3 separate regions of the Homo sapiens genome follow, and regions 1 and 3 are each reported to be linked to region 2. Evidence: microRNA targets listed by miRTarBase, many of them from high-throughput screens and not tested one by one. Region 2 holds a microRNA gene; each other region holds the end of a gene's coding sequence.
Evidence for each region. The annotated mature microRNA hsa-miR-514b-3p reads AUUGACACCUCUGUGAGUGGA and lies in region 2 at 1,083-1,103, shown strand. An mRNA with a match to its seed (bases 2 to 7 or 8) in the 3' UTR can be bound and repressed. Matches are read on the target gene's strand: a 7mer-m8 pairs with bases 2 to 8, a 7mer-A1 pairs with bases 2 to 7 and ends in A, and an 8mer does both.

Region 1: the mRNA of COPS7B is a reported target of hsa-miR-514b-3p. Seed matches in the 3' UTR shown: 7mer-m8 at 1,460-1,466.
Region 3: miRTarBase lists TP53RK as a target of hsa-miR-514b-3p. Seed matches in the 3' UTR shown: 7mer-A1 at 954-960.

Annotation. Positions count from the first base shown.
Region 1 is chr2:231,807,271-231,810,529 of GRCh38, forward strand. It overlaps COPS7B (COP9 signalosome subunit 7B), which reads left to right. Exons shown (of 7, transcript NM_022730.4): 7 at 217-1,983. The coding sequence ends at 375. It also overlaps the pseudogene GAMTP1. Among named protein-coding and RNA genes, the nearest start is that of COPS7B, 22 kb to the left of the region's middle.
Region 2 is chrX:147,248,005-147,251,263 of GRCh38, reverse strand. MIR514B (microRNA 514b) reads left to right here and starts at 1,034; the gene lies at 1,034-1,113. The region is part of intron 2 of LOC105373347 (periphilin-1); the gene reads right to left.
Region 3 is chr20:46,683,908-46,687,166 of GRCh38, reverse strand. TP53RK (TP53 regulating kinase) reads left to right here. Exons shown (of 2, transcript NM_033550.4): 2 at 1-2,802. The coding sequence ends at 414. It also overlaps a transcript of SLC13A3 not described here. Among named protein-coding and RNA genes, the nearest start is that of TP53RK-DT, 3.8 kb to the left of the region's middle.

The DNA of each region.
Region 1 (3,259 bases), not on the chromosome of region 2:
ACCAGGAGAGCATTAGTCCCACATTTTTGCTTGACTCATTTCCACAAATCTGCTGTGAGTAGCCCAGGCTCGTTTCTGCTCATCTGGATTTCTGAAGAGAATTTCAGGTTTTCTTGCAGAGGATTTTAGCTTCCTGTCTGAAGTGAAGACATAGTGAGAGCAAGTTTTGGTGAGCACATACAGGCTGAGCACTCCAATTCTATATCTCCCCACCAGGTTACCAACATCAAGAAGACACTCAAAGCCACCGCATCCTCCTCGGCTCAGGAGATGGAGCAGCAGCTGGCTGAACGGGAGTGTCCCCCTCACGCTGAGCAGAGGCAGCCCACCAAGAAGATGTCCAAAGTGAAAGGTCTGGTCTCCAGCCGCCACTAGGGCCGGCTGGGGCAGCTGGCACTCACCAGGCCTGGGTCAGGTGGGGAGGGGACACCAAGGGCCCATTTCCTCCCCTCTCTACCTGCAGTGAGTTCCAGACCTGCCCGTCCCCTCACCAGCGCCTCCCCACCCTGTTGGTACTGTTCCAGAAAAACTGTTACTCCCCCTCACCCACTCCCTCCTTCCCCAGTTGTTCCCTTCAGACTCAGGGGCTCCACCAATGCCATCCCAAAACAGGGTCAGACACTGCCCAGCTTCCCTCCAGGAGGTTCTTGTCTCTGTGTAAGGGCTTGTCTCCCTCCCAGTTTTTCTTTTGCTCCACGTCATTTTGTCAGGCTGGTTATAAGCCGGAGGCAGCTTTAACCAGCCCCCAGGGATGATTGTGAAGGAGGCCCCTCCCCTTGTGAGGAGGGGGCACTCCTCTCCAGCCCCTGGTACCACAGTCCTCACGATGGTGCAGTGATTTCTAGCCAGGCGTCAAGATGCGCTGCTTTCCCTCTCCTGCCTCATCCCTTGTTGGCAGCTCCAGTTCAGGCCGTGGAGGGACGTGATGCTGGGCTGTGTTTACTAAACCCACGGGTTTTCAGCCTCTTAAGCCCAGCTCCGATCTCCAATTAGTTGAGAGCGCTGGGTTGACTAACCTCTGGTATCTGAGCACAGACAGAGGGTGCTGTGGGTCTGCTGGGTGGCAGAAATGGTTCCTTCCGGCTTGGCGTTCTCTCCTGGCCACTCTTCCTGCTGCCTCTGACTACTCAGCCTTGTTTTCGGTGTGTAGGCCCCAGCTGCCCACTGGAACTGCCGGCTAATGCTTGCTCTCCCAAGATCTTTAACTCCTCCTGGCTGCACCTGGGTAGGGATGGTGGCATCGATGCCCCTCTGTCTGCTGAAGGACCTGTTGCTGCTTCTGTCTTTTCACCCCTCCTTGGCTGATGACCCAGAGCCCTCTGATGATGGCATTCTCCTGGCAAGAGAAAAAGACTTAACTAGACTTCTGAACTTGAACAGTTTCAGGTTATATTTTAATTTTTTTTTTTTTGTACAGGTTCTGATTCTAATACATTTCAACATGCTTTTGTCCCCCCTCGTGTCAATATTTGTTATAGACTAATCGCCGGGGATTTTTCACCTGGTTGGAGGGTGGGGGTGGGGTGGGGTGTGTGTGTGTGTGTGTGTGTGTGTGTGTGTGTGTGTGTGTGTTTGTAGGTCCTGGACTGATTAAAGTTCATTGAGGAAAAAGCACATTTTACAACAAAAAAATAAAAGTGTAGATTTAATGTATGTGACTGGGGTTTGGGGTTGCATACCTGGTGGATCTTGAGGGGCTGGGATTAGGGTGGTTCAGGAAAATGTGATGCTGTTTCCCCATGTTTAGCCATGGTCAAAAAATGGATTTCTCCTTTTTCTAAAATGTCCAGCAACTGCCTACTGTTGATCAAATGTTGAAGTATTCTTGTTTCCCTTTTAAGCCAATCCATGTGCCCACATAACATTATGCCCAAGTGGAGAGTTCACTTTAATTTCCAAAGTATGTTTCATGCAGCCCCCTGTCAGCTGCTCTGTGGAAAAGGGGTTCTGTTATGAAATAAATGTTGCACTCCCTGCATCCCATATCCTCATTGGAAATTCATTACTCAGGTGTCCAAGCATTCCTTGTTGAGGAAGCCTGTACCCACATCGATTTTACCGCCAAATCCTTTTGGGTAATATCTAGGTGGAACAAATCTTAGGGAAATTTTGGGGAAAGTATATTTCTGAAGAAGCCTAAGAGTGCTGGGCGCAGTGACTCATGCCTGTAATCCCAACACTTTGGGAGGCTGAGGTGGGAGGATCATTTGAGCCCGGGAGTTTGAGGCCAGTCCACACAACATAGTGAGATCCCATCTCTGCTACAAATAAAACCCTAAGAGAAGCTGAACACCTTTCAACCTTACAGGTTTTCCCAGCTATTCTTTCTAGACCTCAAACAGTCACTCTCAGCAAGTTTTCTTTCATTCTTGTTTTTCCCACTGGCAAGTAGACTAGGAAACATGGTTTGACTTGTATGAAGTCTGTGACCATTCTTTATTTGATTGCCCCAAGGCCCTAAGGGTCCTCTCCATGATTCACCTTCCTTAAAAATAATGATGGCGACAATAATAACTTGTCTCTAAAGTGCTTTACAAAGTGTGTTTGCATACAATAAGTCATTCAGTCCCTTCCACCCAAACAGCCTTCTGAGGTTGGTAAGGGTATTCAGCCATCTTCGCTTTGCATATGAGAAGACAATCTCAAAGATTTGAAGTGTCCCAGTGGTAACTGGCAGAAGGAGAACTCTTAGATCTCCTGACTTGCACATCCTGTCATCTGCTGTGTTACATTCTCATCTAGAGTCTGCTCTCCACACTTGATCCTTGCTACCCCTCTACCTGCTGCTGTTCCTCTGAGAGTTCATCTTGCCTTTATTTTGAGGGAGGGAGGGGCAAGCCCAGTGTTAGTGTTGATTTTGCCCTCAAGGACCCTGGCGGGGAAGCAGTAGTGTTCCCATTGTAGAGGCCAGAAAAGCTGCCCAGTGACACAGCCAGGATCAGTCATGGAGCCATGATAGGCCAGAGCCTGAGCTCCCAGCCACTGAGGAGGGGTGGCAGAGGATTGTTTGGCCAGGTCTGTGTGGGCTGAAGGCTTGGTGACCAGGGACGACATGATCATCTGCAAGACCAATGCTATCACTGCCCTGAGGATGTTCTTCCCCCGAAAGTTTGCCTCCAATAGCACAGGCACCTGCGTCTCAGATGGTGGTGACATCTGAGTACTTGGACTTCATCAGCTGCCTGTAGGAGGTGAGGTAGCAGGAGGTGAGGGCAATACTCCCTTCAGCTTCAGCAGGTGAAAAGTGTGGTTCTCAATG
Region 2 (3,259 bases):
TAGTTCATCCAGGAAAATGAAGACACATAGTTGCATGTTTCCAAATGGAGAAAAATGCAAACAAAAATGCTTGAAAAGACCACGCTCGAGGGAAAGACTCAGAAATCTCACAAACTGGAAGAAGTTTAATGGCATCCATAGATGCCAAGAACATTTTCTGTTTTGCAGTTCATTCCTGGTAAGTAAAATATTTTTATTTTTGCTCTAGGATTTAAGGAGAAACAGACATTTCTACTCTCCATCACATCAGTGATTACCATCCTATCCTAGAATCTTGTGTGTTTTCCCTGCTTATTCTGTGGTTCAGGAGTTGAGGGATGTAACTCAGGTAGAGGGACTCATCTTCAGGTGACGAGCATAGATGACATAGAGTATATTTTCCTGTTAACTATTAGACCTGAGGAATGTAAACTGCTTTCTAACACTTTATAATAATGGAAAAAATAAACAGGATAAGACATGCAAGGATTTTTCTTCCGTGCACAAGAGAGTCTAGCAGAAAAGCTTAATGGTTCATAGTTCTGAAAATTGCCATGTCATAACTCCAAACCATGATTGGACAACACAGGAAAGGATGGATGAAGAAAGACAGTGTAGTGCATGCTACAGAGGCCCTTTGTATGAACACCAGTCACCAATCAGATTGAAAACAATGATGTGTTTTTGAAAGATGCATGTTGGTCAAAGAGTACAAACTTTGAGTTACGTAATAGATAAGCTCTGGCTATCTAATGTATAGCATAGTGATAATAATGCTGTAATTGTTTACTGGAAATTTGATAAGAGAGCAGATTTTAAGTGTCCTCACCACACCCCCACAACACACACACAAATGGTAACTAAGAGCGGTGAATGATGTGTTAGTTAATTTTACTATGGTAATCAGTACGCGATGTATATACATATCAAATCACATTGCACACCTTGAATATATACAAATTTTGTTTGTCAATTACATATTTTTAAAATATAAAAAGAAAGGTGCATGAGTCAGTCATTAGGCTGGGCTGCCATCCTTAAGTGTTCTATTCTTCATGTGGTACTCTTCTCAAGAGGGAGGCAATCATGTGTAATTAGATATGATTGACACCTCTGTGAGTGGAGTAACACATGATATATACATCATATGACATGGCATGGTGGATACACGGGGCGTGTTAAGTTGCAAGCAGTATAATACTTTCCCTAGAATGCAGACATTTCTACTGACACCCTCCCTGTTCTGGACTAGCTCAGTTAATTCTCTAAATTAATTATCAGACGTAAGACCTAGAAACTGAAAGTCTGAGGAAAAACTTCCCATTGAGTTTCTTCTGAGATTCAGATCCCTTTTGCCAAAGTTGCTTGACCAAAATGGTAACAAGCCTTTCACTGTCTTCATGGTGTTCCTGTCACCTATAAAGTGTTTTTTCTTTTGTAAGAACCTATTCCCAACCGTAGCCTGCAAATCTCTTAACTTACCACCTATCGACATTCCTCTTCATTTTTAAGATTTTCCCCTTAGGCATCCATCAGTTCCCTCCCTTCTCAGATCCTTACCCTACTAAAGACCAAAGTATTTTTTTTCTCCCAGGTATTAAAGCTCCTTTTTTTTTTTTTTTTGGTAATTATTTCTGGTCTTTTCTGGTCTTTTTTTTAACTTTTATTTTAAATTCAGTTGTACATATGCAGGATGTGCAGGTTTGTTATATAGGTAAACATGTGTCATGCAGGTTTGTTGTACAGATTATTTTATCACCCAGGTATTAAGCCTAGTATCCATTAGTTATTTTTCCCGATCCTACCCTTCCTCCCACCTTCCACCCTTTGATAGGTCCCAGTGTGTGTTGTTCCCCTCTATGTGTCCATGTGTTCTCATCATTTAGCTCCCACTTACTTATGCATGAGAACATGCCATATTTGGTTTTCTGGTCCTGTGCTAGTTTACTGAAGGTAATGGTCTCCAGTTCCATCTATTTCCCTGTAAAGGACATGATCTCATTCTTTTTTTATGGCTGCATAGTATTTCATGGTGCATATGTACCACATTTTCTTTATCCAGTCTACCATTTATGGGCATTTAGGTGAATTCCATGTCTTTGCCATTGTGACTAGTGCTGCAGTGAACATACTCGTGCATGTATCTTTATAATAGAACAGTTGATAATCCTTTGGGTATATACCCAGTAATGGGATTGCTGGGTCAAATGCTATTTCTGGTTCTAGGTCTTTGAGGAATTGCCACACTGTCTTCCACAATGGTTGAACTAATTTACACTCCCACCAGCAGTGTAGAAGCGTTCATGTAGTTTTTGTTTTTATTCTGTTTATGTGATGAATTCTAAGCTCTTAATGCACAGGAATTCAGTGAATCTTTACAAGAACCTTATGAAGTAGGAGCTGTTATATCCACTCTCATTTTACTAATAAGACAAGAAAAATAATTTTAATAAATGCCTTATGATCACACAGCTATCAAGAAGCAGAGCTTGTATTTGAGCCCAGGCAGCCACTCTACAGTGTCCCCTTTTTTACATCAACTCACTGCCCTCCCTTAGTTTCTTTTCTTCTAAATCCAGCACTAGAATGTATTAAACATTTGATTCAGCTCACAGCTCACAGTTCCTTATGTAGAGCTTTGATAATGGCCCTGCTCACAAAACAAAGAGGCTCTGACAAAACACACAAGTATTCACGTCGGAAGGGTGAAAAGGATCTGGATTGGAATCCAGTGCACTTGCATCCAGGATCTTCAGCCCTCATCAGAGGACATCACGATGTCTGGTTATGTTTGTCTACTAATGTCTCCTTGAGGTTGAGCCACTGGGTATAAAATTAGATAGCAGGTTTAAATTTTTGTACGTACATATAGATACTTAAATTATTTTCATTTACTGGACCACATCCAGGTTTGAGGCTAAAGTATATCCCCATTTTTACATGGTTACATTATTATGAGGGTTAAAACCAGCAATACGTTCTAGTTGTTGGTTGACATTAAGTAGCAGTCCTCATCTCAAAAAATAGGAAAACCCCACCTTTCTCTGCGTTGCTAGAGAGGGAGGCCTGCCTTCAACCCTGCCTTCTTTCCTTTTACAGTCAGTGATGAAAGCTATACCTAGGTATTAGTTATTGAAACCACCATCATCATGCCATTACTTATGTATTTGATGATGGATAAAGATAAATCCAGTTTTTGCCGTGTTTTATCTTTCTTAATGAAAATATCCATCCCTGTTCCTAACAAATTAGATGAATAAGCTATGCTTATATGTAGAAT
Region 3 (3,259 bases), not on the chromosome of region 2:
GAAGGCTCAGTGACTGTTCGAGATTATATTCAGTCCACTATGGAGACTGAAAAAACTCCCCAGGGTCTCTCCAACTTAGCCAAGACAATTGGGCAGGTTTTGGCTCGAATGCACGATGAAGACCTCATTCATGGTGATCTCACCACCTCCAACATGCTCCTGAAACCCCCCCTGGAACAGCTGAACATTGTGCTCATAGACTTTGGGCTGAGTTTCATTTCAGCACTTCCAGAGGATAAGGGAGTAGACCTCTATGTCCTGGAGAAGGCCTTCCTCAGTACCCATCCCAACACTGAAACTGTGTTTGAAGCCTTTCTGAAGAGCTACTCCACCTCCTCCAAAAAGGCCAGGCCAGTGCTAAAAAAATTAGATGAAGTGCGCCTGAGAGGAAGAAAGAGGTCCATGGTTGGGTAGAAGAATGTGTATGACAACCACACACAGTGAAGCTCTTTTTTCAAAGTAAATTTGAAGAAATGCTACAAGTATGAGATGAGATCTAAGTAAAGGTGTTAAGATATTTTTAAGTGGTATGTGATCGTGTCATTATCATCTGCACTTCACTCAAGAGCTTACTATGTGTCTAAGTCATGTTCTAGGCAGAATTGGGTATTTAAAGTAAATTGAGGACAGGCTTCTCCCAGATTGTGACATGTATATCTCAGATACATGGGTGTGGCATTGAACCACATAATGAGAACATTATTCTCTTTTTAGTCCTTGTGAGACAAGGATGAAGTCTCAGTTGCTGATACTCGCTGAGCTTACTGGCCCTCTAACCCAGTGTTTTTTTTTGTTGTTGTTGTGTACATGTTATATTTATTTTGAAACCAGTTTAATGGGATACAACCAGCATTTTAAAAAATGAAATAGAATACAGCATGGAAAATATCAGTGTATTGTTTTATGAAACTTTCACGTGTATATATAGACCAAGGATATGTGCTGAGTTTTGATGTCAAATATATTTCTCTTTCAGGGTCATGATCAAAAAATGAAAAGTCTGCTTAACTCCAATTTCTCTTTTAAAAAAGCAGACTTACAGCTTTCAGGCAACTGAAATTCATGTTAACATGTTTTTATTTTTATTGCTTTGTATTTTTGTGGTTACCTTCTAAGACAAGTGATTGATCTAAAGTTCCTTTTAAGTTTATACCGCTAAACAAACTGAGTTGATTTCTATCACAGGCAGTAAGTAGGTAGAGCAAAAATGGTGAAGTGACTTGTGAAGACTGAAGTTTGATGAAGTCTGGTTTAAGGCACAGGTAAACTGAGTGTGGATGCAAAAGTACCAGGAGCTAGCTTTTAACCTTGCCCAGCCTCAGTTTCTTTTCTTAGAAGAAGCTATGTTTGGGTGGGAAGGGAAGAGAGGGATAAGAAAATACCTTTCTTCCTTGTAAACTCCAATCAACAAACATATTTTGAGTGCCTTTTGTGTTCCTTGGCACCCTGTTGGGTATTGGGTACTTGGCACCCTGTTGGGTATTGGGTACAATGGTGAGCCAGACAGACACAGCGCCTGTCCTTTTGTAAGAATATTTATTTTTATAAAAAAGTATAAAGTATACAGTGGGATGTTTTGATATACATTATGAAATGATTGCTACAGCTGAGCTAATTAACACCCATCACCTCACATAGTTACTGTCTTGTTTCTTAATATGGACATTTGCAGCTATGAATTTCCCTCTGCACACTGTTGTCATCACACACTCTCAGTTTTGGTATTTTGTGTTTTTGTTTTCATTCATCTCAAAGTATTTTCTAATTTCCCTTGTGATTTCTTCTTTGACCCCTTGATTGTTTAGAAATCTGTTAATTTCCACACATTTGTAAATGTTCCAATTTTTCTTTTGTTATTGCCAGCTTCATTCCATTGTGTTCAGAGATGATACAGTCAGTGCCTGTTCTTATGAAGCAAACATTCTATAATAGTAGGACCAGTACCCTGTCTGTTTCATTCACCACAGTCAGCATGCCCCAAGTGCCCAGCATGGGGCGGATGGCCAGGAATGAGTGAAAACTTCCCTTCCTGGGTAGTTGTGACTAGTAGAGAGGAAAAATAATATAATTGCCTGCTTACTGCATGCCAGGCATTGGGCTGGGAATTTTTATATTGGATCTAAAATAACTCTTAAGTTAGGCATTATCCCCATTTTATAGATGGAGAAACTGGCCCCAAAAGGTGGGAACTTGTCCAAGACGTCACAGGTAGCAAGAGGTACTTTTACCTGGCTCCAAATCTGTGTTCTTTCCACTGACAAATGAGATATGGGATATGGTGCATCTTTACAGTACTATAATAAGTATTGGCGTATAACATTATTTTCAAGGAACTCCAAGGGCCACAGGAGCTGACAGGTTTTTCAATTAATATTCCCAACATGAATGAGATGCCTCATTCCTCAGTTTCCTCACGTGTACTATAAGGCTAGTACCTGCTTTGTTGGGGTATGGTTGGCTCGTGTGCATTAAGTCAACAAATCCCTAGTTGATAGGGTTTGGCTGTGTCCCCATCCAAATCTCATCTTGAATTGTTCCCGTAATCCCCACGTGACATGGGAGGGACCCAGTGGGAGGTAATTTAATCCTCGGGGCGGCTACCTCCGTGCTGTTCTCGTGATAGCGAGTGAGTTCTCACGAGATCTGATGGTTTTATAAGGGGCTTTTCCCTCTTGTTCGGCACTTCCTGCTGCCACGTGGAGAAGGGTGTGTTTGTTTCCCCATCTGCCATGATTATAAGTTTTCTGAGGCATCCCCAGCCATGCTGAACTGTGAGTTATTAAACTTTTCCTTTATAAATTACCCGGTCTCGGGTATGTCTTTATCAGCAGTGTGAGAACGGACTAATACACTAGTACTCACTATGCGCCGGGCACTGGAGATCTAATAGAGGGGAACATGAAGCTTACTTTCCTGGGGAACATAAGACAGTTTCAGACAGTGATGAGTGAAGATGTGAAGGAAAACCAGAAACACAGGAGATGAAGAGAGTATATCCCAGGCAGGCTGTGGCGTGCGAAGTTGGCGAAGAAGAAACATCCCCGACAGCAAGGCTGGTGTGGCCGGCATTAGTGAGCAAGGGGGAGGAGCAGAACATGAGATGGGAGAGGCGGGGCCGGATCCTGCAGGGCCCTGTTACAAGGTTGGGTTTTGTTCTTAATGGGACTCAGGGTTTTTAACAGGGTGATACCTGATTGTTTTGAAAGGGTTGCATTGGTTGCTGGCAGAAAACCATAGAGGGCAAGAGTGGAAGCAAGAA